Linked DNA regions of Homo sapiens: all the other regions are linked to region 2. The links come from fine-mapping of genetic effects on gene expression. A gene starts in region 2. Each other region holds a variant in brackets. All regions are shown on one strand. Distances are from middle to middle. Region 1 has its middle 6.9 kb from the start of MIR4786. Region 2 holds the start of NDUFA10 (NADH:ubiquinone oxidoreductase subunit A10). Region 3 overlaps NDUFA10 (NADH:ubiquinone oxidoreductase subunit A10).

Evidence for each region. PIP is the estimated chance that this variant, and not a neighbour inherited with it, causes the effect.
Region 1: its variant is fine-mapped to the expression of NDUFA10 in tibial nerve (GTEx, PIP 0.99).
Region 3: its variant is fine-mapped to the expression of NDUFA10 in monocytes (TOPMed, PIP 0.96).

What each region holds. Positions count from the first base shown.
Region 1 is chr2:239,945,861-239,954,038 of GRCh38, reverse strand. It overlaps a transcript of NDUFA10 not described here. Among named protein-coding and RNA genes, the nearest start is that of MIR4786, 6.9 kb to the right of the region's middle. RefSeq lists enhancers at 2,384-2,883, 7,382-8,178. The variant A/C (reference allele first, on the strand shown) is at 3,855.
Region 2 is chr2:240,021,745-240,029,922 of GRCh38, reverse strand. It overlaps NDUFA10 (NADH:ubiquinone oxidoreductase subunit A10), which reads left to right and starts at 4,581. Exons shown (of 10, transcript NM_004544.4): 1 at 4,581-4,696; 2 at 7,583-7,751. The coding sequence starts at 4,622. OR6B2 (olfactory receptor family 6 subfamily B member 2) reads left to right here. Exons shown (of 1, transcript NM_001005853.1): 1 at 1-432. The coding sequence ends at 432. RefSeq lists an enhancer at 3,757-4,586 and a silencer at 4,395-4,654.
Region 3 is chr2:239,971,706-239,979,883 of GRCh38, reverse strand. All of the region lies in intron 9 of NDUFA10 (NADH:ubiquinone oxidoreductase subunit A10), which reads left to right. Among named protein-coding and RNA genes, the nearest start is that of MIR4786, 33 kb to the right of the region's middle. The variant A/G (reference allele first, on the strand shown) is at 3,874.

The DNA.
Region 1 (8,178 bases), 76 kb after region 2:
CTCTCACAGTCCTGGGGTGGTCACTCAGCGGTCCCGGCAGGGGGAACCCACTTTCACAGCCCCGAGGCGGTCGGTCACTCAGCCTAGCCCAGCCCAGCAGGTGGAACCCACTCCCCACTGTCACAGCCCTGAGGCGGCGGGGGCGTCCTCCACCTCGCTCTTCCTGGAGAGACGCCAGTGTGTGGGTTTGGAAGCGGAGTCTATTTTAAGTTTGCAGTTCCTGAAGGAGCCTGTGTTGGCTGTGCTGTCTCCACATGGTCACAGCCTTGAAGCCTCCAGCCTTTTAAGGACAAGCCTCTGCCTGGCTGCCTGTGGTTGGGGCAAGCCGCTACTTACGTTCGCGGTGCCTGTTGCGTTTTCCCACCTAAGAGGGCACAGGAGGTGGTGGAAGGGGAGTGGAACTAAGGTGGGGGACTTGAGAGCAAACTGTGAGTGTCCAGAGCTGTAGGAGGTTCGGAGAAGACACCGAGTGCTCCTCCTGCAGGGTGAGAAACCCTCCTGTTTCTGATTGCCTCATGCACCACCATGCTCAGGTCACCCGGCAGGCACCCCTCCCTGGGGCTGAGCCCAGATCAACGCGGAGCAGTTTCCTAGGGCTGCGGTAAGCAGCTGCCTTGCACTTTGCGGCTAAAGCAGCACAGATCTATTATCCTAAGTTCTGGAGGCCAGGAGGCCTCCAATCAAGGTGTCAGCAGGGCTGGTCCCTCCTGCAGGCTCCTGGCCTTCCCAGCTTTCCTGGTTTCCTGGCCTTCCCAGCTTCTAGAGGCTGCCTGCGTATATGGTCTTGTGACCCCTCCTCTAGTCACCTCTCCTCTCTGCTGGCCCCTGCTGCCTCCCTTGTGCAAGAACCCCTGTGATGACATTGGGCCACTCAGTCCAGGAAACCCCCCATCAAGATCTTCAACCCCATTTGCTCAGCCCCTTTGCCACCCGAGGTCCCATGTCCCAGGAGCTGGGGATCAGGATGCGGCTGTCCTTGGGGCCCTGTTCTGTGCACCACAGTCCCCACCTTGGGCCGACAAGAAGGCCCTGTGGAGACTGGCAGCCACAGGCCCTGCTCTGGGTGGCCCTTCAGCTTCTTCTTACCTCCCACGTGGCTGGAGAGGAGGGTCTCACCCACCACAGAGATGGGCCTTCTGCCTCAGAGAAGGCGTGGAGCAGCGGGGCTGGCGTCGGCAGCTGTGCCTTGCGTTTTCTGGCAGCTGTGAGCAGCCCTGCCTTGCCAGCTTGGTCAGCAGAGCCTCGCGTCTGCCGTGGGCTGGCTGCACCCCTCCGGGGCCCTGGCCCAGGCCCAGGCCCATCCCTGTCCCCATGTGGTGCACACCGTGGGGAGAGGTGGACATAGGCTGTCCCATGTGTGGTGACAGGTGGTCTCCATAGCCATGTCTGGCACAGGGTTGCCCATCCAGGGGAGGGAGGCCTCTGGGAGGAAGAGAGGGGAGGCTGCTTTGTCCATCGTGGAAGTTCAAAAAACCCAGAAAAACCCCTACAGGGGTACCTGGAAGCTGTTGGTGCTCAGAAGCTCTTCCCACCTACAGATCTTGTGATGGGGCCTGCAGGTGAGTGCCCACCGGCTGCCAAGGAAAGCCTCAAGCCGCACAGTTGGGGCCCTGCCGGCCAGTGGGGGTGGGTTTGCTGCGGGCTGCACAGTGCTGGCCTCCTGAACTCTTCACCTTCCACAGACAACAGCATCCTCATCTCTGCCCAGGAGGTCTGCTCCTTTCTCCTGGGCCCCCCTCCCCACTCTGCCTTCAGAGCCCTTTGTGCTTTGGCCCCCACCCTGCCAGCCCCCTCCCTGCGCCCCCCTCCTCACCACCCAGTCCTTCATGCAGCCTTTCCTCTCCCTGGGCTTGCAGGTCTGCCCCACCAAGCCCCCATTCCAGGACGCAGCCAGGCTGTCTGCCCTCTGCGAGCAGGTGTGGCACATGTGTTGCTGGTTCATCCCGTGGGCTCACAGGCGGCTCCTGTGCAGACCTCTAGTGGGTGTGGGACTTCAGGCAGCAGCCTTTGGCCCCTGCCGGCCCACACCCCAGGACCCATGCCACAGCACCTACCGAGGGAAAGAGACCAAAGGGCATGCACCATCTCAGGTCTCGAGAGGGACAGAGCCAGGCAGGAGCCTGGGCAGGCGTCAGCAGGGCCCTCGTGTTCCTGGGTCCCACTGTCCTTCCCGCTGCCCAGGGCATGGCCAGGCCGGAGGCCTCGGTGTGCCGTTGGGACCAGGCCTGGGAACCCCTCTGGCTTGTTTCCCCTTTTTAGTTACACAAATACTTTATGATCACTTCTGAAAATTTAGGAATTTTAGGAATGAACAAGGAAGATAGCTTTAGAGTTATATACATTTTCTTTTACTTGCCATTAGAGTCTTCCTAGACCCTGTTTTTTAAAGATGCCTGACTCTCCACGCCCGGCTGTGACCAAGCCTGCCGCCCCTCCATCATAGCTGCTTCTCAGTGTCCGGCACATCCTGTACTGGGTGCTGAGGGGACCCAGGGAGGGTGTGGCGAGAGGAGGACCCTGACCAGGCATCCCTGGGACACGGCTGCCCAGCACGGGCATTTTTTCTTTTATGGAGGCTCAGAAGTGAGGCCTGAGAACACAAGAGAAACGGCCTCGTTAGACCCTGGCCCCACTTTCTTCCCAATCTCAACCACCTTCGACGACTCAGTCATCAATGTCTGCGTCTCTCCCCCTGCTGTCCTCTGTAACCCACGGGTGGCTGACGCAGCCATTGTCCCTGTCTCCAGGGCAGCAGCACAGGAGCGTGTGGCCCTCCCGAGGCCCCTCCCGCACGCCCTGTGGGCACCCCGGGTCCCATCGCTGCAGGGTTCCCTGTCTCAATAGTAGCCTCTCCTTCTGATGTCTTGTGGTCAGATGTTTGCTGGAAAGGGCCCCAGAGCCCCAGTGAAAATCCAGACTCAGAGATGAGACTGAAACGGGAAGTGTCAGCATTGTTTTAGGGTTTTTCACTTCAAAAGCCAATAATCCTCTGAAGCAGGGCCCTTCTGCACTCCTTCCAGGCTCAGCAACTACCTGACAAAGGAACGAGGGGCTGAAGCGGAACGTACTGGAAGCCCTGGCCAGCAGGTGGCCAGTGGGACGCTGACTTGAAACCTCTTTGAAGCAGTCATGGGAGCAGTGGGAACAATTGCCCCGTAATTGTTGGACAGTGTCACACAACTAGACAGGCACCTACTTGAATCACAGAATGGAGCTGTGTGGTGTTTCTGTGACACTGGGATGAAGCTGCAGGCACGAGCAGGGGTCTGCACAGCCGACCACGGGGACAGACAGGCGTGCGGCTGCCACTCACCTGCACGTGGTGGCCATGTGACATGCACAGGCCCTTACACCGCCCCAAGCTCCTATCCGTACCAGTGTTGGAAGAAGCCGCTCAATCAGCAGTTGGTTTGCTTTGATTTTACCTTAAAATCCTGACGCTATCCTGGTCATAATGAGCTCTCATCCGTGTGTGGGGTCCTTACACCGAGGACACCAGGTCTAAACACAAGTGGGAAAGGTCAATGTTTACATCTACACTTCAGATGCCTAAAAACAGAGTCTTCGGGGAGCAAGGAGGAACCGTTCCTCAGATTTCCAAAGGTCATGCCCCGAGGGGGCAGCTTGGTGGACTGGAGCCGTCTGAAAAAGAAGGTGGTGGGTCGGGAGCCCTGAGCCTCCTGCTTGGGCCAAGGCATGCCCACAGGAGACCTCTTGCCCGCTCAAGGACTCGGGGGCCTGAGGGATCCCTGAGGAAGCTGTGAGTGGTGGGCAGCCGTCTGGCTGTAGGAGATGCATCATCTCAGCTTCTTTATAACAGGGCCAGCCTGTACTGCTGAGGGTGGACCAAAGCC[A/C]CACAGCATGGGGCGGAGGGGCTATAAGGACTGGAAACCTTTCTAAATCTCTGCCACCACTTCGTGAGCCCACTCTGAGGTGTGCCCCCTCCCTAGATTCTCACAGCAAGCTTGGCTGCAGGTGGGGACGGCCTGATTTTTCTCCCATTATGTACGTAAGAAAATAGGCTCTAGGGTGGGACCTCCCCAGTCTCCCAGATGGAATGTGGTGAGTCCAGGTTCAGGCTCAGTCAGGGCTCTCCTGAGACCAGGACCCACAGGATGAACAGATATGGAGACAGTTACAAGGATTCTGGAGGCTCAGAAGCCCCAAGATCTGCTGTCTGCAAGCTGGAGACCCAGGAGAGCCAGTGGTGCAAGTTCCAGTCCAAGGGAAGACCAATGTCCCACCTCAACAGGCCAGTGTCAGGTATGGTGGCTCGCGCCTGTAATCCGAGTGCTTTGGGAGGCTGAGGTGGGAGGATCGCTTGAGGCTGAGTTGGAGACCAGCCCGGGCAACATAGATGAGGCCTTGTCTCTTCAAAAAGTAAAAGTGTGGTGGCACGCGCCTGTTGTCCCAGCTATGTGGGAGGCTGAGGTGGGAGGATTGCTTGAGCCCAGGAGTTTGCACTCCAGCCTGAGCAACAGAGAAGACCTTGTCTCTAAAAAACAAACAAACAAAAGCAAAAAACAAAAAACAGGCAGAGAGTGGGAATTCTTTCTTCCACCACCTTTCTGTTCTTTCCAGACCCCCAGTGGACTGGAGGATGCCTGCCCACGCTGGGGAGTGCCGCCTGCCTTCCCGAATCCACCAGGTCACATGCTGATCTCATCCCCCACAGATACACCCCAAAAATCTTGTTTGACCAAATACCTGGGCAGCTGTAGTCCAGTCGGGTTGGATGTCTAAAGCTGATCTGTACAATTGCTAACTCGCTTCGCCCTCCGAGCCGTGCATCTCACTCCTCAGACACAAATGCTGGTGCTCATTCCTGCCCCAAGCTCCTATCCGTATCAGTGTTGGAAGAAGTCGCTCAATCAGCAGTTGGTTTGCTTTGATTTTACCTTAAAATCCCGACACTATCCTGGTCATAATGAGCTCTCATACGTCCGTCCCAAAGAGGGACATGTGTCCATTGCATTCGTGGGGTTAAAGCAATGAGAAAGCCTGCAAGGCAGGAAGCTTGGGGTTGGGGGCTCCAGGGGAGCAAGGAAGGGTTGGGGGCTCCAGGGGCAGAAGGGGGTGCCCTGTGACTTCTGAGACACTGCATTTGAAGTAGAGAGCCTTCTCTTCTGGACTCCTGCACGCTTTATCTTTGTGTGAACTGTTCCCTGCAAAATAAATACACAGGCCTCTGCTGGCTCCTGCCTAGGCCAGGATGGCTCGAGGCTTGGTGAAGTCCCCAAGGAGGGAGGGCCACCTCGGCTGGCTCTAGTTTTTTCTGTCCCAGACACTGGAGGCCTGGATTTGTGGAAGATGAAGGGACATACTGAGTTGCGTCGTCAGGCTGGCATCTGAGCCACCTTTGCAATCCCTAGTTTGTCCTTGTATTTGGAACGCTGGAGGCTCGAGTCAGGATCCGGGTCCCACCGACGTGTATTTGTGCTTTCAAGATGGCTGGGGCTTTTAGCCTTGGCAGCTTTGCTCGGGCAGGCCTGCTGCTTTTTACATTGGGTTTTCCAGCGACTCCACTTACAGCTGCAAAATGGACAGTGGGCTGTAGACCCTGAACAACGTCAAGTGAGTGCATGTTTTGAACGCCTGTTACTTTTCCGTCGCCACTCATGGAGCGGAGGCTGTGGAGATGTCGGTTACTTTCTGTCCCCTGGGGGCTCAGGACCCAGCTGCAGAGCAGCCTTGAATGAGACCACAGGGAGCCTCTGAACAGGGCCTTGAGGGGCCAAAGGGAGAAGAGCAGCCTGGAGGCCATTGTCCGGAGCACAGCCTGGCTTCGTCTCTGGAATGCGTGGCTGAGGCTGGGAAGAGGGACGGACGTGTGGGCAGGGCCCAGGAGGTTCTAGCTCTTAAGTGTTGGTGGAAATGAGCTGCTATTTCCCTAAGAATTGTACACAATCCTGAACCTTGCTGCCGTTAACTGAACCTCTGGACTTTTGCTCAAACAGCTGTAGTGACGACAGAGCTTGTCCCCCGACCTCACCTCCTCCACCTCACCACCAGAGGATGTAAATTGGCTAACTTGGCCTCGGAAGACCAGCTTGAAGGGCAGGGCCACCTATGCACATGTGACCTCCATGTTCACCCAGTGCCCACGCTCAAGAAGGGCCCACACTTGATTTAATGTTCAGCTGTGGCCGTCCTGAAAGTCTGAACAAGTTTTGGACCAGAGCCTCCCGTTTTCATCTTGCACTGGGGGCCACAGGTTATGTCGCTGCCGTGGGCGTGTTGAGGCACCACCCCGTGCTTCCTGGAGCCCTCATCCCTCTTGCCATCTGGCAACAAGAGCTGGGCTGGCCTGTTGCATAGTCTTTGAGGCCTTCAGTGGATGGAGGAGCTCACGGCAGCAGGAAGGCCGGTGTGTGAGAGGAGCCCCGGGAGGACCCTCACAGGACCCTGGGCCTGGAGGCCTGGGGCTCGGCGGGGAGGGCGGGGCTTGCTCTGGGCCTCAGAGAGTCAGGAGCCGTCCCTGTCTGTGTCTGGTGCGCAGAGAGGGCGGGGCTTACTGGGCCCTGGTGAGGCAGGGACTGTCCCTGTCTGTATCTGGTAGCAGCTGCCTCCCGGTCTTTGTCCAGCTTCTTCCTTAGGCCGAGCATTTGGCTGTGGCTGCAGGAAGCCCAGCGGGGCGTGCAGAAGGCAGGCACACAGGACAGTCACTGAGCCATTTTCCTCTGTGGGCCTCAGGAGCTCTGTCCCTGGGGGCTCTGGGAGTTGGTGTGGGATGTAGGCCTTAGGCACCTGCATTGGTATAGGGCTGTCCTGGTATGACTTCTTGGTATTCCCAGGCTCGGATGCCTGCTGCCAGATAATGTCCAGGGCCTTGGTCTAAGCAGTGTGAGCAGGCGGGACGGCCCCAGATGGCCTGGCCTAGGCCTCCAGGGATTCTGTACCCATGAGGAAGGGGCTGCACTGCAGCCTGGATCCCAGCTCCTTACCCAGGATCCCACCCACACTACCTGCTGAGCACCGGGCTTCAGGACTGAGGAGTCCCATGGGAGGCACAGCACCCACCACCATGGGCTGGGCATCCGTCTCCTGGACACTGCCCTGGCACTTCACGCAGGGTTCCCTCCTTCCGCCAACCCTGTGAGGCCGTGGCCTTATCCTCATTTCACCAAAGGCGGCCTGAGGTTCAGAGAAGTTAGGCAGGACATCAAAGACACACAGCAGGCATTTCCAGCATGGGGCCCTCTGGCCCCAGAGCTTGTGCTTGTAGCCTTCTCTCTGCCTGCAGGAGCCTCACTCTGACTTTCCCCAAAATCTGACCAAAGGGAGTGAGTGCATTTAGCACACCTGGGCACACATCCATGTCAGGCGTGCCTGACAAAACCTCGGTCCTGCCTCCTTCAGGGAGGTCCTGCACCAGCGTCAGGAGCCGTTGAACTCAAAGCTTTAATGTGGACAACAAAGGGATTCATCGAGATGAGCTGGAGCTGGGCTGGAGAAGGTGTAGCGTCCGTGAGTGTTGACCTGGATACCTGAACGGTGTGGGGGTGTTTGTGATTGCAGTGAGCCCTTGGGCTTGAGACTCACTCCGTGGCTCTGAGCGCAGTGCCTGCGGGGAGGGCCCCGGAGGCATCACTGAGGGGTTTGCAGGCCCAGCACCTCATACAGAGCATGCGGGTTAACGAGCTAATTCCACAGAGGGTGGCAAGGGACAACGTCTTCCCCTAGTAACACACTACCCTTCGGAAACCCTCCCAGCTCATCACTGCACCCATCTCCCCGTCTGCTGGGGCTGGGGCCGGAGCTGTGGTATGGAGTGCAGGGCTCATGACCACCTGGGATTTGAGTGGCTTGAGTGGCCAGGTGCCACCTAGGAGGGTGACGGAGCCCCAGCTGGGGCTGAGGAGGAGCAAGTGGGAGGAGCGTGCAGCCATCCTTCCTCGACTTCGAGAAGTCACTGGAGCAGGGGCCGAACACACACAGCTGCCAAGGTGTGGCCCCTCTCTCTGGAAACCTGCAAGGGACACGTCTGCCCTGGAAGCCTGGGCTCCCTGTTCAGAACGGAATCCCTGGGGCCCTCCTCTCCTGTCCTGGTCTGGGGGTGCAGCTCATTATGTGAGGCTCTGGGCTGCTTCCTGTCCGCAAGCGGATCCCATTCTCAGCGCAGTGTCTTCCACCCTCCTGCTCCAGGCACCTGGGTTGCACACAGGGTGCTTCTGGCTT
Region 2 (8,178 bases):
GGCTCCAACGTCTTGAACCACTTCTTCTGTGACATTTCCCCCATCCTCAAGCTGGCCTGCACGGACTTCTCCACTGCAGAGCTGGTGGATTTCATCCTGGCCTTCATCATCCTGGTGTTTCCGCTCCTGGCCACCATACTGTCATATTGGCACATCACCCTGGCTGTCCTGCGCATCCCCTCGGCCACCGGCTGCTGGAGAGCCTTCTCTACCTGCGCCTCTCACCTCACCGTGGTCACCGTCTTCTATACAGCCTTGCTTTTCATGTATGTCCGGCCCCAAGCCATTGATTCCCAGAGCTCCAACAAGCTCATCTCTGCCGTGTACACTGTTGTCACGCCAATAATTAACCCTTTGATTTACTGCCTGAGGAACAAGGAATTTAAGGACGCCTTGAAAAAGGCCTTGGGCTTGGGTCAAACTTCACACTAAGACAACTAAATGTCCTAGAGTAAAATCTGTAGTGATGAAACAACATTGTATGTGGCACTTTGTGCTCTTTAAATTAATTTTTAAGTTAAATTTAACAAACCTACAGAACTAAGTGAAATTTAACAAACCTACACAACTGTGCACAAGTAACAAGCCTTCGTCTGCATATGTTTTCACAAAAGGACTGTGCTCATGGAACCAGCTCCCAGATCAAGAACTAGAAGCTGCCTTCACGCCCTCTCCCAGTCATTAACCCTTCTCCACAAAAAGCACTGTCCTGACTTCCAAAACCAGATGCTAGCATTGGTGTTTCTGAGGGGCTTACACATAAAGTATGTGCCCTGTTATGTTCAGCTTCTTTCATTCACCGTGTTGCTTGAGTGAATCCTTGATGTTTTTGCATGTAACAATAATTCATGCATTCTCATTGCTATCCAATATTCATAATAAATAATACATTTATACTGTATAATACACAATGCATAATACATTCATACTGGGATAATACATATACTGGGATAATGCATATACTGTATTGTGTATTATATATACATAATACATTATGCTGGGTGAAACCCTGTCCCACCTGTCCCAGCAGGTGTGAGCCACTGTGCTCATCCATAATTTATGCATCTAAACACAGATAAGGTAAGTCAAAATATAATGTCATAATCTTATGGGACCACCATCTTATGTGCCGTTCAGTTCATCATTCACCAAATGTCATTGTGTGGTGCACTACTGCGTCAGTTGAGAATATTTGTGCTGGCTTATTTCTGGATCCTCTGTTCTGTTAAATTGATCTACGTATCTATCAATATCACACCCTCCATCCATACAACACAGTCTTGATTTATATGATTATGTAGTAAATCTTAACACTGGAAGAGTGACTCCTCCCACTTTATTCTTCTGCTTCAAAATTATTGTGGCTATTGTACAGCCTTTATATTTTTATATAAATTTTATAGTAAGCCTGTCAATGTCTACAAGAGAACCTCGCTGAGATTTTGCTAGAAATTCCATTAAACCTAAAAATCAATTTGGGAAGAACTGACTTCATTACTCTGTTGAGTCTTTCAATCCATGAACATAGTAAACCCCTCCAATTATTGAGGTCTTCATTCTTTAAATCAGTGTTTTGTACTTTTTAATATGCAGATTCTGTGTGTGTTTTGCTGGATTTAGACCTAAATATTATATTTTCTTTGAAGCAACTGTAAATGGTATTCCATCTTTTATTTCAGTTTCCTTCTGTTTGTTGTTAGTACATAGGATGCAGCTGATTTTCATATGTTGACATTGCAGCCTGCAAACTTGCTGCGCTCACTCATTAGTTCCAGGAGGTTTTTGTAGATTCCTTTGGGTTTTCTATGTGAACAGTCATGTCAACTAAAAATAGACAGTTTTATTTCTTCCTTTCTGATCTGTATGAATTTCATTTTTTATTTTTTGCCATACTGCATGGCCTATTACTAGAACTTCCAGTGCTCTGTTGAATAAGAGTGGGCAGAGCAGATATCCTTGCCTTGTTTCCTCCTTAGAAGGCAAGCATTCAGTCTTTCATGATTAAGTACAATGATGCAGAGTTTTCACGCATGTGCTTTATCAAGCTGAAGCAGCTCCCCTTTAGTCCTTATTTGCTGAGAGCAGTTTTTGTTTTTATCATAAATGAGTATTTAATTTTGTCAAGTGATGCAGAAAACTGCATCAGGCAATCTGGTCATAGATTTCGTCTTTCACCTGCTGGTAAGGTGTATTACATTGGTTGATTTTCAAATACCAGATTAGCCTTGCATCTTCTGAATAAACCACCTTGGGTTGTGGTGTATGATTCATTTCATATAGTGTTGGATTCAATTTGCTAACATTTCGTTAAGGATTTTTGTGTCTAAGTTCACGAGAGATATTGGTCTATTGGGGTCTGAAGTTATTTTCATGCTGTCTAATATAGTGTGGACGTCAAAGCGACCTCCTAGAGAACATTCCTAGCTCTCAGAACGTTCTAGCTGGGGAGGGAAAACGGAAAAAGGGGGGCGAGAAGCGGAGGGACGGGGAAGTATATAGTAATACTTCCCTTGAACCAGTAAAACTGTAATGCCCAACCTGGTTTTTACTAACTGTTTTCAGACTCTCCCTTTTCCTTTAATCACCTAGCCCTGTTTCCACCTGAATTGACTCTCCCTTAGCTAAGAGAGCCAGACAGACTCCATCTTGGCTCTTTCACTGGCAGCCCCTTTCTCAAGGACTTAACTTGTGCAGGCTGACTCCCACCACATCCAAGAATGCAATTAACTGGTAAGATACTGTGGCAAGCTACATCCGCAGTTCCCAGGAATTTGTCCGATTGATAACGCCCAAAGCCCCGGGTCTATCATCTTGTAATAGTCTTAAAGCCCCTGCACCTTGAACTGTTTACTTTCCTGTAACCATTTACCCTTTTAACTTTTTGACTACTTTACTTCTGTAAAATTGTTTTAACTAGACCCCCCCCCCTTCCTAAACCAAGGTATAAAAGTTAATCAAGCCCCTTCCTCGGGGCTGAGAGAATTTTGAGCGTTAGCCGTCTCTCGGTCGCCAGCTAATAAAGGACTCTTAATTCGTCTCAAAGGTGGTGTTTTTCTAACTCGCTCAGGTACAACAAAACATCCACGCAAACAGGTTGTGAGAAGTTACGTCTGCGTGCTGTGATACCTAGAGGAACCACTACGAAAACTATACATAATGATATTTCCCAAGACATTATCAGTAAATCAAGATGGAATTCTAAAAAAATGTACTGTATCCATTGGAAGGCACAAAAAAAAAAAAAAAAAAAAAATGCAAAGGAAACAAGGCAAAAAACAGCAGACATGAACCCTAAAGCTTGTTAAATGGATTTCAGGTGCCCTCCAGGATCTAAAAACCAGACCCTCCTGCGTTGGGGACCGGGAATCCGTATTTTTGACAAAAAGCAATTCTTCAATTATAGAAACATCCATAGAACCGGCCGTAGTTTACACAGCTGCATTCCCACTGTTTTACAATCGCATGATCATTTCTGAAAAGTTGAAAACAAAGTTAAAGAATATTTAAGGGGTTAAGAACAAAAAGCCTGGGGAACACAAAAGATTATAAAAACCCTTCCCAACAGCAGGCATACTTGGAAGGAAACCTCACATGCAAGGCTCCTTCGTGGAGCCCAGAGCCCAGGTCCTGACGGGAGCACATTTTAAGAGATGGACTTGCCGGCGCGGTGGCTCACGCCTGTAATCCTAGCACTTTGGGAGGCCGAGGCGGGTGGATCACGAGGTCAGGAGATCGAGACCATCCTGGCTAACATGGTGAAACCCCGTCTCTACTAAAAATACAAAAAATTAGCCGGGTGTGGCGGCGGGCGCCTGTAGTCCCAGCTACTCGGGAGGCTGAGGCAGGAGAATGGCGTGAACCAGGGAGGCGGAGCTTGCAGTGAGCGCGATGGCGCCACCGCACTCCAGCCTGGGCGACAGAGCGGGACTCTGCCTCAAAAAAAAAAAAAAAAAAAAAAAAAAAAAAAAAAAAAAAAAGAGATGGACTTGGAGCGTGTGCTTTTGTTTTCTATGCTATTCAATGTGTTCACAGCAGGTCCCCTGGATGAGACCACTTAGCCTTCAGCTCCGGAGGCGACCCAGGCCGGCCTTGCCAGGTCCCTCTCCCTGACAGGCGCCCCGCGACAGGGGTCCCACCCCGTCCCTCCGCTCCTCGCCCCCTCTTTTTCCACTTTCCCTCCCCAGCGAGAACGTTCTGAGAGCTAGGAATGTTCTCTAGGAGGTCGCTTTGACGTCCACACCGCGCCTGGGGGATTCTGCGGGGAGCACAGGACCCTGGGACGAGACGCAGAAGTCGCTCCACGCCCTGGGCGGCCTCAGCTCCCGCGACACCGCAGCAACTCAGAACCCAGGCAGGGGCCGGGCAGCCAGCATGCTGCCCCCACGTTCACCTCCAACTCCCACCTCTCGGCCCTCGCCCCAACCCGCAGGACCCTGGCAGCGCACTGGCTGTCTCCGCGGAAGCCCCCGAGGGCCTCGGCGCGGCCCCGCCCCCTGGAAGGTTCCCGACAGGCGCCGCGGGCACCCCGGCCGTGACGTCACGGCAGCGCGCCGGCCGCGAGAGAGGGCCCCGTCGCGACCGCGTCCCCTTGGGTCCTTGATCCTGAGCTGACCGGGTAGCCATGGCCTTGCGGCTCCTGAAGCTGGCAGCGACGTCCGCGTCCGCCCGGGTCGTGGCGGCGGGCGCCCAGCGCGTGGTGAGCGGGCGGCGGGGTGGCAGGGTGGCGGGGTGGCAGGGTGGCGGGGTGGCGGGGTGGGGAGCAGTTCCACATCTCCCCCGGCCTCTGGCGGCGGCTCCCAGGTCGCTCTCCGGGTGGGTTTGGGGGACCCCTCCTGCCTCCGGAATTGTTTGGTCTTTGGTCGTGGACAGACCTCAGGGGGCCACGAGCTTCTCCAGGCCATTTTATCTCAGCTTTAAGCAAAACGCTGGAGCGCGGAGGTGATCAGGGCCCCGAGGCTGCCCTGATGCGGGAGGCCCGTGTGCAGGTGGCAGGCCGGGGGCACACGCGCTTGTCATTAGATAATTCACGTAGCAGCCCTGTCAAGAGCCGTTTAAAGGTCGGGCCCTGCTGGGTGCTTGGGTGATGCCATGTTGAGCAGACACGGAGTTCAGTGCTTGTGTCCGCTTCCTTTTGCCTTTACTCTGACTGACTACTCTCATTTCTTAGCATTTTGCCCCCACCTTCTTCAGTGAAATCGTTTCATACATTTGTAACACAGTTGGATTGCTTTGTCACATTCTGCCTTACATCTTGGGATCCTTCTACCTAATGCGTTTTTTAAAATGTGCATACATTGAGCGCATTCTTTGTGCTATAAGGTTCTATGGATTTTTTCTTTGTGCTATAAGGTTCTATAGGTTTTGACACGTGTGTAATAGCATGTCTCCACCATTATAGGTTCGTACAGAGTAGCTTCACTGCCTTAAAAAATTCCCCTCTGCTTTACCTATTAAACCCTTCTTTTTCTCCAACCCCTGACAACCACAGATCTCATTAACATTTCCATAGTTGCCTTTTCTGGAATGTCATATAATTAGAATCATACAATATATTGCCTTTTCAGACGCCTTGAATACTTGGAAATATCTATGTAAGATTCACTTATGTCTTCGTGGCTTGGTAACTCATTTCTTTTTAATCACTGAGTAATATCTCATTGCATGGATGTACTTCAATTCATTCAGCAATTGAAGGGCATCTTGGTTGCTTCAAGTTTTTGGCAATTATGAATAAAGCTGCTGTAATCGTGTACATGCAGATTTCTTTTTGGAAATACATTTTTATATCATTTGGGTAATACCTGGAAGAGCGATTACTCATGTAGTAAGACTAGTTTTCTAAGAAGCTGCCAAGCCATCTTCCAGAGTGACTGTGCCATTTGACTCCCACCAGAAGTGAAGGCTCTCCTTGTTGCTCTGCGTGCTCGCCAGCATGCGGGGCTGTCGGTTACTTTGGATTGCTATCCATTCTGATAGCTGCGTAGTGGTATCTTGTTTCAACTTTGGAATATCTCATGATATACAGTGTTCATCTTTTCATATACTTATTTGCTATCTGCGTTAATTTCATTTGCGAGAGGTGTTTACATCTTTTGCCCATTTTTAAATTGGGTTGTCTGCTTTGCCTTGTTTTGTAACTTGTTTCTTCCTTACTCTTCAGTTATCAAATCAAGATCGAAAAATATCTTGATATTTCATATTCTCCTGTTTTATTTAAATTTCACTATAAAGTATTTTAATATTTTTGTGTTTTTCTGAGTACTTAGTATTCCATAATATGGATATGCCTTAATTTTGTTTAACTATTCCTCCGTTGTTGGACATTTAAGGGTTTCTATTTGCATTTTTGGTGTTACATCATACTTCATTGAGCATCCTTATAGGTCAATCTTATGTATATACTCTTTGAATGGATTCCTAATGCTGTAGACCCAGCGTCCTCTAGGTTTCATTACCATTAGCAGTTTAGGATGGTACTCATTGTCTTGTCCTAACTCTGTAATCATTTTTTAAATTATTTCTCATTTTGACACATGAAAAACTAATGTTTCCTTGTTAATAGTCTTTTGTTTTTTTGTAGCAAGGTTGACCACTTTTTCATGTGGTTTTTGGCTATATTTTATAATTTTAAAATAAGCTGTGTGTTTTTATTCTTTGTTTTCTTATTGTTCTGTACAATTTCTGTATATAGTAAGGTTATTACCCCATCATATCTGTTGAACTTCTTCAGTTTGTTTTACTTTTGGTTATGTTTCTTTTCTTTTTTTGGAAGGAATGTTCCCACTTTAGTGTGGAGAGTAAATTGGGCTGCTGGAGACAGGCATTGAAGCAGGTCTTTGCCTTGTAGATGAGAGGTGTGAGGGTGCCGACAGAGTCAGCACATGGCATAGGGAGGCGATGCAGTGTCCAGAGAGTCTGAACAGTTAGGATTTTGTGTGTAATTCTGCAGTTGAAGGAAGGAGAAAGGTATCAAAGACGACACTCAAATTTGCTCTCTTTTGCTTGTTAGGTAGTGGATATTCCTTGCTGTGAGGGAAAGCAGACTTGGGGGCTAGGATATGGATGTTGCATTTCACCTTAGCTCTGTTACCTTCAGGTGCCTTCAGGACATCTAGGTGGAGCTGTTTAATAGGCAGTGGGGTAACGAGGTCAGGACATGGGGACAGAAGCTTGGATTAGAGAAATGTTTTTTATTCCCTTCCCTTCACTCCTGAGCTTCCCTCCATCCCTGTCTTTCTTCCTCCCGTCTGTCCGTCCATCCATCCATCCATCCACCCCTCCCTCCCTCCCTCCAATTTTTATTGAACATAGTAAACATATTTAATAAAAATTTCAGGCATTGTTCCAGGGCCTGAGGATTTAGCAGTGAACAAACAGACAGTATATCTGCCTTTAACGAAACTTACATGGACAGAGTGGTGGGGGATAGACAGATAATTAAACAAATTAATAGGCAATAAAGATGTAGATGTTGGCATTTTTATCACTAAGAGGTTTCTTGGTATTTTTACCTAATAGTTACTAATGCCTACAGGAACCAGAGTGGTCACAATGTGCTGCTGTGTGATTTTGTGTTTTTCAGAGAGGAATTCATAGCAGTGTGCAGTGCAAACTGCGCTATGGAATGTGGCATTTCCTACTTGGGGATAAAGCAAGCAAAAGACTGACAGAACGCAGCAGAGTGATAACTGTAGATGGCAATATATGTACTGGAAAAGGCAAACTTGCAAAAGAAATAGCAGAGAAACTAGGTATGATTTTATGTTACACAGAATGATACCTTTTTCTCAGATATATGGTTGCTTATTTCACTGGTTTTTCTTCAATATTAATATTAAATAATATTAAATATTTAATAATTGGGCCTAAGGTGGGTATTTCACATTTTTGTTTATTGAAAAAGCTGTTTTATAAAACGAAACAAGAAAAAGCTGTTTTTAATCTTTTATGTTTGGAAAATTTGTGAAAATCCATGCTGGTTGTCAATTTGAATTGGAATTTTATGTGGGCAGTGTAAGCAGGGCACTTCCACATAAACTGTCGTGTTTGAACTTTGTGACAGCCTCTGAAATAGAGCCGAGGATGGTACTCACTCACAGATGGGTGTACTCCTGAGTGAGCAGATGCCACATAGCTGGGTCCCAAAGCCAAGGTTAGAGCCCCTTCCTGACTCCTGGT
Region 3 (8,178 bases), 50 kb after region 2:
TGAGCTTGAGCAGGGAGTGAGCTGAAAAGGCAGCAGGCCAAGGTCAGCCGGGGTCCGCAGCTGCCACGGGGACCTCAGTTCAGCGGTACTCCTGGTGAGGTGGTGGCGTTGGTGCGCCAGAGAGTGGCATCATCTGGGTCTCAGGTTTAAAGGGTTGCTCTGCTTGCCACGTCGAGTATCAACTGTGGGGGCAAAGGCAGAGGGCCAAGGCGGTCAGGGAGGGTCCTGGTGGTGCAGGTGAGAGTGCTGGTGCTATGGGCGGGGGCGCTGAGAGTAGGCACTGTCTCTTTTCCCGAGAGCCCCCACTTAACAGGGGCATTGTTGCCCCTCCTTGCCCAGCCAAGTTGCTTCTTGCTTTTTAGGTTTTCAAAATTAAGCAGACTATTGCTGAAGGATTCCAGCAGAGGGAGTCAGGGAAGAGGTGCAGGGTGGGGAGCGGGCTGCTGAGGGCCTGGTGGTGGCCTTTCCTCACCGGACGGTGGAGCCCTGGGCCTCTGCTGTGTTGCCTCTCCTGCAGAGTTGTGTGTGTGACTGGAGGAGAGGGGTGGAGCCAGTTCAGCCAGCACTGGGGTCTAACTATAAAGCACAATAGAGACAGGTAGTGGCAGCTGGGTGGGGTGGGCTGTGGGGTGGGGTTCTAAGATAGGAATTTGCCGTTTGTAACAAAGGAACTTTGGTGTAAAGGCTTTAATTTAGGAATCCCAGGCATACTTCCTCATGGATCTTTTCCTGACCCTTATGTTTAATTTAATTTACTGATGGATGGATGAGCCCAGAAAGGGTTACACAGGAGCACACTTCTCAGGGAGTGGTGTGACGCTGGGGAGGCTCGCCCACCCTGTGTCTGAGCTAATTTCTGAAATCTGTTTGGAGCTTATATATTGAAACAAAGCCGTTATTCTAACTTTCACATGAAAAGAGCTCCATGTCTTTTAAGATACTTTTTTATTAGAGCTCAAGTTCTTTTATAAGCAGAAACTCCTTTTTTAGGTTTCTAAAAAGCATACAAACGGTGGGAAGACAGAATTCTTCCCCAAATCACCTACAGGTGGTTCGCCCACACCTATTTCAATAGACCTTATTTTAGCGACTCACCTTCATCAAATGGTTCCAAAGTGTTTCAGCCTAGTTTTAACAGAACAGCAGCTCTTCCTTTTCAGACGCGTAGTTTTCATAACATTTAATTAAATTTTGCAATTGCAATGACAAGTACAACTGGCGTCGCTGCTGGGAAACAGACCACTGACTCATACCACTTGGTGGGAGGGACAGAAGTGCCTGTGGGCCAGTGGGAGCAGGTCCTGCCACTTGGTGTCCTGTGTAGGCTGGCTTGTGAGTGATCCAATCGGGGTTGGTCAGAAGAGCTTTCTGCTGAAAGGAAGAAGAGCTGGTGAAGAGGACCAAGCTCGCCAGAGTATTAGGAGGCAGGCCAGACTGTGTGGGCCCTGGGCGCCAGCAGAGGAGCCTGTAGAGGAGCTTCAGTGTCTGTCAGAGGCCGCAGGAAGGTCAGGGGTGGTGAAGGTTGACCATGCCCAGGATACTGCGTTGATGACCAGGTCATAGGTGAACCTTGAGAGAAGTGTCAGGAGACTGGTGGGAATTAGAGATTCCATCTTCTATAGCTTGTTATTTTGTCTTGTTTTTAAGGGCTAAGGCATTCTCAGTGTGTTTATAGGCAAAAGGGTAAGTGCTTGTGGAAAGAGGGAAAAGATGCAAGAGAGGAATGGGACCGTTGATGGAGCAGGGATCCCAGAGGCAGGGGGGCCTCTTGGCTCCTCAGAGATCCCAGTTCACCAAGCAGGGATCCCAGAGGCAGGGAGGCCTCTCAGCTCATCAGAGATCCCAGTTCACCAAGCAGGCGTGGCCAGGCCAGATCACTGTTTGTTTCATAGGACCCCAACCTAGTCTGCTGAGGGGAGGCTGGAGGGGTGGGTGAGGGCTCTTTCCTCCCATGGGGAGACACTCTGTTGGATTGGCCATGTGTGGAGTGGAGGCACAGAACCTACATCCAGGGTGCTGCGAGCGTAGCTGAGAAAGCCAGCTGACCCATGCTGGGTGGTTGACCAGGCCCAGTGACCACGTTGGCCATTGTCATTGAAGCATCTCATTCCTTGATTAAAATCCACTGGTGCTCTTCACATCACAGGGCCAGTTCCAGACAGTAGATTACAGCCATTTGATGTGTCATATTTACGTTCTCCTAGCGTGAAAGCAGCAGTTTGTGTGCTTAACATTATAAATATACATGGTTGAACATCCTGGATGTGATGGCTAATGAGTCTCTCTGGAACAGATTGGTTTTGGAGATGTCTTGACTGGCCTTTAAGGGGCACGGTCGTCCAGCTGTGGAGCACTCGTGGAGTCAGATCTCCACACAGTGGTTCAGGTCCCTGTGAATCCTCTCACCTGCGTGAAGGGCCTGGCTGCCTCTTCTAGGTGTCTGGGAAGCCTGCTCTTTCCCATCAACTGCACCCTTAAATGGGGACTCCAGAAACAGGAGCAGTGTCAGGGGCGAGTTAGAGGGCCTAGCACGCCATACTCAGGGACAGTGGCGGGACGCTGGCAGGAGCAGTGGCAGCTCATGGGGCTCCGGATCCCAGGTGCCTGTGCTCGCCCACCTGCACCTGCCAATGGATGGGTGACTTTGAACAACACGAGAAGACGGCAGTTGGGGTCCAGTGGCCTTCGTTACTGTTAGGAAGAAGGTCCAGTTGCCCATTCTAGACTTGCTGTCTCTCTTGTCTGTGTTTCCTTATCCCTGAACCTGGCTTCCAGTCTGAGTTTAGGGAGATCTGCTTGGCGGGGGAAGGTTTCCCAGCTCTTCCTGTGGCTGGATGGAGTCAAAGGCACCAAGACCTGAGTCTGGGAGGGGTCCAGCCAACTCGTTTTTCTTCTTGGGGTTCTGTAATTTTTGCTTTGCTTGCCCTTGTGTAATTCTAAGAGGTGCACAGCTGCTGTTTGGGTTGCAGTTGTCTAAATCAGTGGTGCCCCAGAAGTTGCCAGTGTTCTGGGAGCTGCTCTTACTGAGAGAATCATGTCTTTTTACTGGAACTCCTTCCTAGGGCCACTCTGAGCGCTCTCAGCCTCTGCCACAGCTCATAGTTTCTGGCTCCGCATGGTGGAGTCGCCTCGCCTTCTGCTGTGGCTCCTCCTTGTCACTCTTCAGTACACTCAAGGCTGTTCAGCCTGTCGGCGGGAGCTCCACCTTCCCTGTGCATTCGTCTGGCCCCCATTTCACCGCACTCAGTGCCAGACACTGCACCAGGGCTGGAGACACAACCCAGTTTCCACACCCTGGAGACTCGGCAGAGACACGTGCGCAGATGATGCGATGGAATCCCAGAGGCTGTGGGGACCCGTGAGAGGGTAGGGATGTGCGGTAGGTTGCTGTGTCTGGGGTCTCAAGACTCGCACCTCACAGGATGGGTATGAGTTTGCCAAGTAGAGTCTTGGGGGGGGCAGTTGAGGGAGAAGGAGGATGGCTGTGAAGGCCGGAGGCTGCAGGGCATGGCCGGCAAGGGCCATGATGTGAAGGGAAAGGAGACAGAACAGGTGGGGAGGGTGGCGAGTGGGGCGAGATCGCACAGGGTCTCAGGGTGGACCGTGGAGCTTACTTTCCATCCTAAGCCACGTGGGGGTTACAGCAGGCATGAGATTAACCCGAGGAGTTCAAATATAGCAGAGTCAGAGGGCATTGCACATTGTTATGTAACCAAGCCTGGAATTGCAGTGTGAAGAACTTCTCATCAGCGTTGATGGGATGATTAAGAAAGGTGGTCAGAGATGTTGGAATTTGAACCAGAATTTAAGATTCATAGATACTGAGGATTTATGGGCTTTATTTAGAGTAACTTCTTGACTATTAGAAACCCT[A/G]TCAGATAAATTTTAAAACAGAGACCCAGAGCTCAAGGTAGGACTACTAAATGGATGATGTGGAGTGATGGTTAAGATGACATTTTCCTGGCTGGTGCTGTGGCTTTGGTTGGGAACAGCGAGAGATACAGAACCGACGGTCTGGGATCCAGGAGGGTGGCTGGCAATAGGGAGGAAGTGTGGACGCTTGATCCAGGAGGCACTTAGGATTAATCTGGCAGCCATGGCCTGCGAGGTGGGGAGAGGCTGGTGGAAGGAAGGATTATGGGCTGGGGGCTGGAGTGTCATGGGCTGAATAGGACCTGACAAGAAGGGGAAAGAGCAGAGAGACTGAGGCTGAAGAGGGCACCACTTCTGCTGCTGATCGCAGTGGTAACAATACCAGGTCACCCCGAGCACCTTCTGTGTGCTGGGCACTATGCTGTTGCCACAAGAAGACACTATTATTCTTATTCCCATTTGCAAATGAGCAGTTTGACACAGTGGCTTTCTGAGGTCCTGCAGCTTCTGGGAGGGCAGGACTCACATTTGGGCAAGTGTGGCCGGGCGGCCATGCTGCTTCCCATTTCCCTGCTTCTTGCAGGGCCCCTGGGGTGAGCACCATGCACAGACTAAGGTGTGGGGGTTGTATTAGGCTGTTCTCGCATTGCTATAAATAAATGTCTGAGACTGGATAATTTATTTAAGAGGGTTTTATTGGCTCACGGTTCTGCAGGCTGTACAGGAAGCATAGCAACTTCTGCTTCTGGGGAGGCCTCAGGAAACTTACAATCATGGTAGACGGTAAAGGGGAAGCAGGTACATCCTAATAAGGCAGGAGCAAGAGAATGGGGCAGCAGAGTGTCACATATTTTTAAATGACCAGATCTTTGGTGGCAGAGTGTCACATATTTTTAAATGACCAGATCTTTGGTGGCGGAGTGTCACATATTTTTAAATGACCAGATCTTTGGTGGCGGAGTGTCTGTCACATATTTTTAAATGACCAGCTCTTTGGTGGCGGAGGAGTGTCACATGTTTTTAAATGACCAGCTCTTTGGTGGCGGAGGAGTGTCACATGTTTTTAAATGACCAGCTCTTTGGTGGCGGAGTGTCACATATTTTTAAATGACCAGCTCTTTGGTGGTAGAGTGTCACATAGTTTTAAATGACCAGCTCTTTGGTGGCAGAGTGTCACATATTTTTAAATGACCAGATCTTTGGTGGCAGAGTGTCACATATTTTTAAATGACCAGATCTTTGGTGGCAGAGTGTCACATATTTTTAAATGACCAGCTCTTTGGTGGCGGAGTGTCACGTATTTTTAAATGACCAGATCTTTGGTGGTAGAGTGTCACATATTTTTAAATGACCAGGTCTTGTGTGAACTCAGAGTAAGAGCCTACTCATCACCAAGGAGATGGCCCAAGCCATTCATGAGGGATCAGCCCGCATGATCCAAACACTTCCCACCAGGCCCCACCTCTGACACTGTGAGTTACATCTCAGCATGAGATTTGGAGGGGACATCCACACTCTCATTTGATGAACATGCTGGTGACATGGGTACACAGACGAGTAAAGAAAGACCTTTTCACAGCAGAGTGGATCTTAGATTTTCATATGAATAGAAGGGTTTATGATTTTTGGTTTTGTTGATCCTGTGACCTTGGAGTGTTTGTCTTGTCACTTGTCTGGCTAGTGTCCTGATGGCTCTCAGGCACCTGTCCACACTCTAGGCGACACCCAGCGCTAGGGCACTGATGCCTCAGGAATCCAAGTTTTCATCTAAAACAGCGTTTTCATTGGGTGCAGTGGCTCACGCCTGTAATCCCAGCACTTTGGGAGGTTGAGGCGGGCGGATGACTTGAGGTCAGGAGTTGGAGATCAGCCTGGCCAACATGGAGAAACCCTGTCTCTTCCTAAAAAACACAAGAATTAGCCAGGCGTGGTGGCGAGCACCTGTAATCCCACCTACTCGGGAGGCTGAGGCATGAGAATCACTTGAATCCAGGAGGCGGGGGTTGCAGTGGGCCAGAATTGCCACTGTGTTCTAGCCTGGGCAACAGAGTGAGACTCCATCTCAAAAAAACTAAAATTAAATAAAAATAAATAAGTAAAGCAGCATTTTCAGTGGGGCATGTGTACCTGGGGTCTGAGCAATATATATGAACATGTTTTTCCTTAGCGACCCTCCTCATTTTGTGCCCGGAATTGACCCTGTGTAAGTTCATGAAAATACTGAATGTGTGCAGGACAGGCTGCTGATTTTTTAAAGTCACGTTTTAAACATTGTATCAGGTCACTTTTTATTTCTGTACAGCCCTTCTTTGGATTAGACAAACTGTGATTTGGTTTCTATTTTACCAGTTCAGTCTCTTCAATGGAAGGAAGCCAGATGCTGTTAAGATACTGTGCTCCCTCCTTGAAGCTGATCGTTCCCTCCTTGAAGCTGATCGTTCCCTCCTTGAAGCTGATCGTGTCCAAGATAGTTGCTAGGACAACAGAATCTTCTGTTTTCTCGCCTGCTATTTTTGTTTCTTTTACTATCTCAAGTTGTTTTCATTTTCAGTATTGAGTTCTCCCTTACCATTTTTTAAAACAGAGATGTTTTTATTAACTTTAATATGTTAATACTGTATGTTCTTGCCTTTATGAAATTCACCTTACAGAAAGGCACTAGGATCAGTTTACCTAAACATGCGGGAGACGGAAGGCCAGACGTGACTGCTTTAGGTTCCTCATGACATTCAGACCTTACTTGGAACTCAGTTTGGTATCTAGTTGTGTTAAAATACAAATTTTCAGTTTATAAGTTACTTAATTAAGTTTGAAAGTAAATGCGTAATGCCTTCAGTGTTCTCTCCACTTTGTGCCCTGCCACCTGCACTGTGGAAATTAATCATAGAAACTCGGCGTTAATCTGTATGCCCGAGTTATTTACATCTCTGTGTATGGAAAATTATCAGCATGTGTCCCTCGAAGAAGATGATGAGCATAAAAGGTGATCTTTACCAGGTCCATTGGTTTGTATGTGATTGCTGTGGTATGTGGTATCTGCCTGTCTACTGATGGAAAGTGGTAAGATACTGTCTTACATGCAATCTGGAAAATCAAGTGCCCTGACTTTACAGTGTGTTACATATGATTGTATTTACTTTAGAATTTTTAGAAAGCATACCATTTTCAGGTTTAAAACAAGCACTTAGGTTAGGAGCTTTTCTATTATTCACAGCTAATAAGAGTTAAGGAGGATTAAGACATTTGAACTATTGTTAATACTCATTGCAACAAATATGACAGCTAAATAATGATATATTTGTAGGAAGCTATAGTTTTATGTGTTAAAAAATAGAACACACATTTTCAAAATAAAAATATGGTTTTTGAAAGTTGACTGTTAAAAGATTTTTTGAAAATTTATGCCAATTTTGTTACATTCGATTTGTGTTCTACAGTAATGGAAATTAAGGGAAATTGTGTATCAGAGAAGTGTCTTTAATATCTATAGTGCTCTTCTTTAAAATTAATGAAAAACTCCAAGCAGAATTGATTAGCATTTATATGTTATAATGGAAAATAGGAGTTGGAAACTGGAATTTCCAAATCACCCCAGAACTTTGCAGTATTTTGAAGCTCCTTAGTGCATCTAGAGAGAGGGGAGCCAGTCATGCTTGGCATAACCCATTGCTTGCCCCAGCAGAGTGAAGCCCACCCGGTACACAGGCCCTCACTCAATCGTTTTTTTGTTTAATTTATATATTTACAGTAATACAATAAAGGGTTTGTTGCTGGAATATACACATATTTATTTATATGTATAATATTTATCAATATATTTACAAATATATGTATACATGTACACACACACACACACACACACACACACACACATCCTTCATGAAAACTCTTTCAGCTGGGAAACTGAGCATCCTTGAATGTCCCTGAGGTGACTACTAGGATATAAACATCCCCCAAGAGAAGTGCTTTGAGTTACATACGAAAGGACCTGCAGAAAGATTGGAGTCACCTTTATCTGGGTAGAGTGGATTGTGGACCATAACCTAACAGACACCCAAGAAATCTCATAGCTGAGACCTTGAGCAACATACCTTTACTATATATATGCTGATTGACAGATAAATGGAAAATTGGAGGGAATGAGGGGAATTCAGTAAAACCTCGTATAAGTAGTATGTGATTGAGGAAAGAGCTTATTGTGTTATTTTTAAGAGTTAGCACACTAAAAGTTACAATTTAATTCAACGAATATTTACATGCTGTAGTGGGAAAAAGATCCTGGACTTGATCATTAAAAGATCGGGG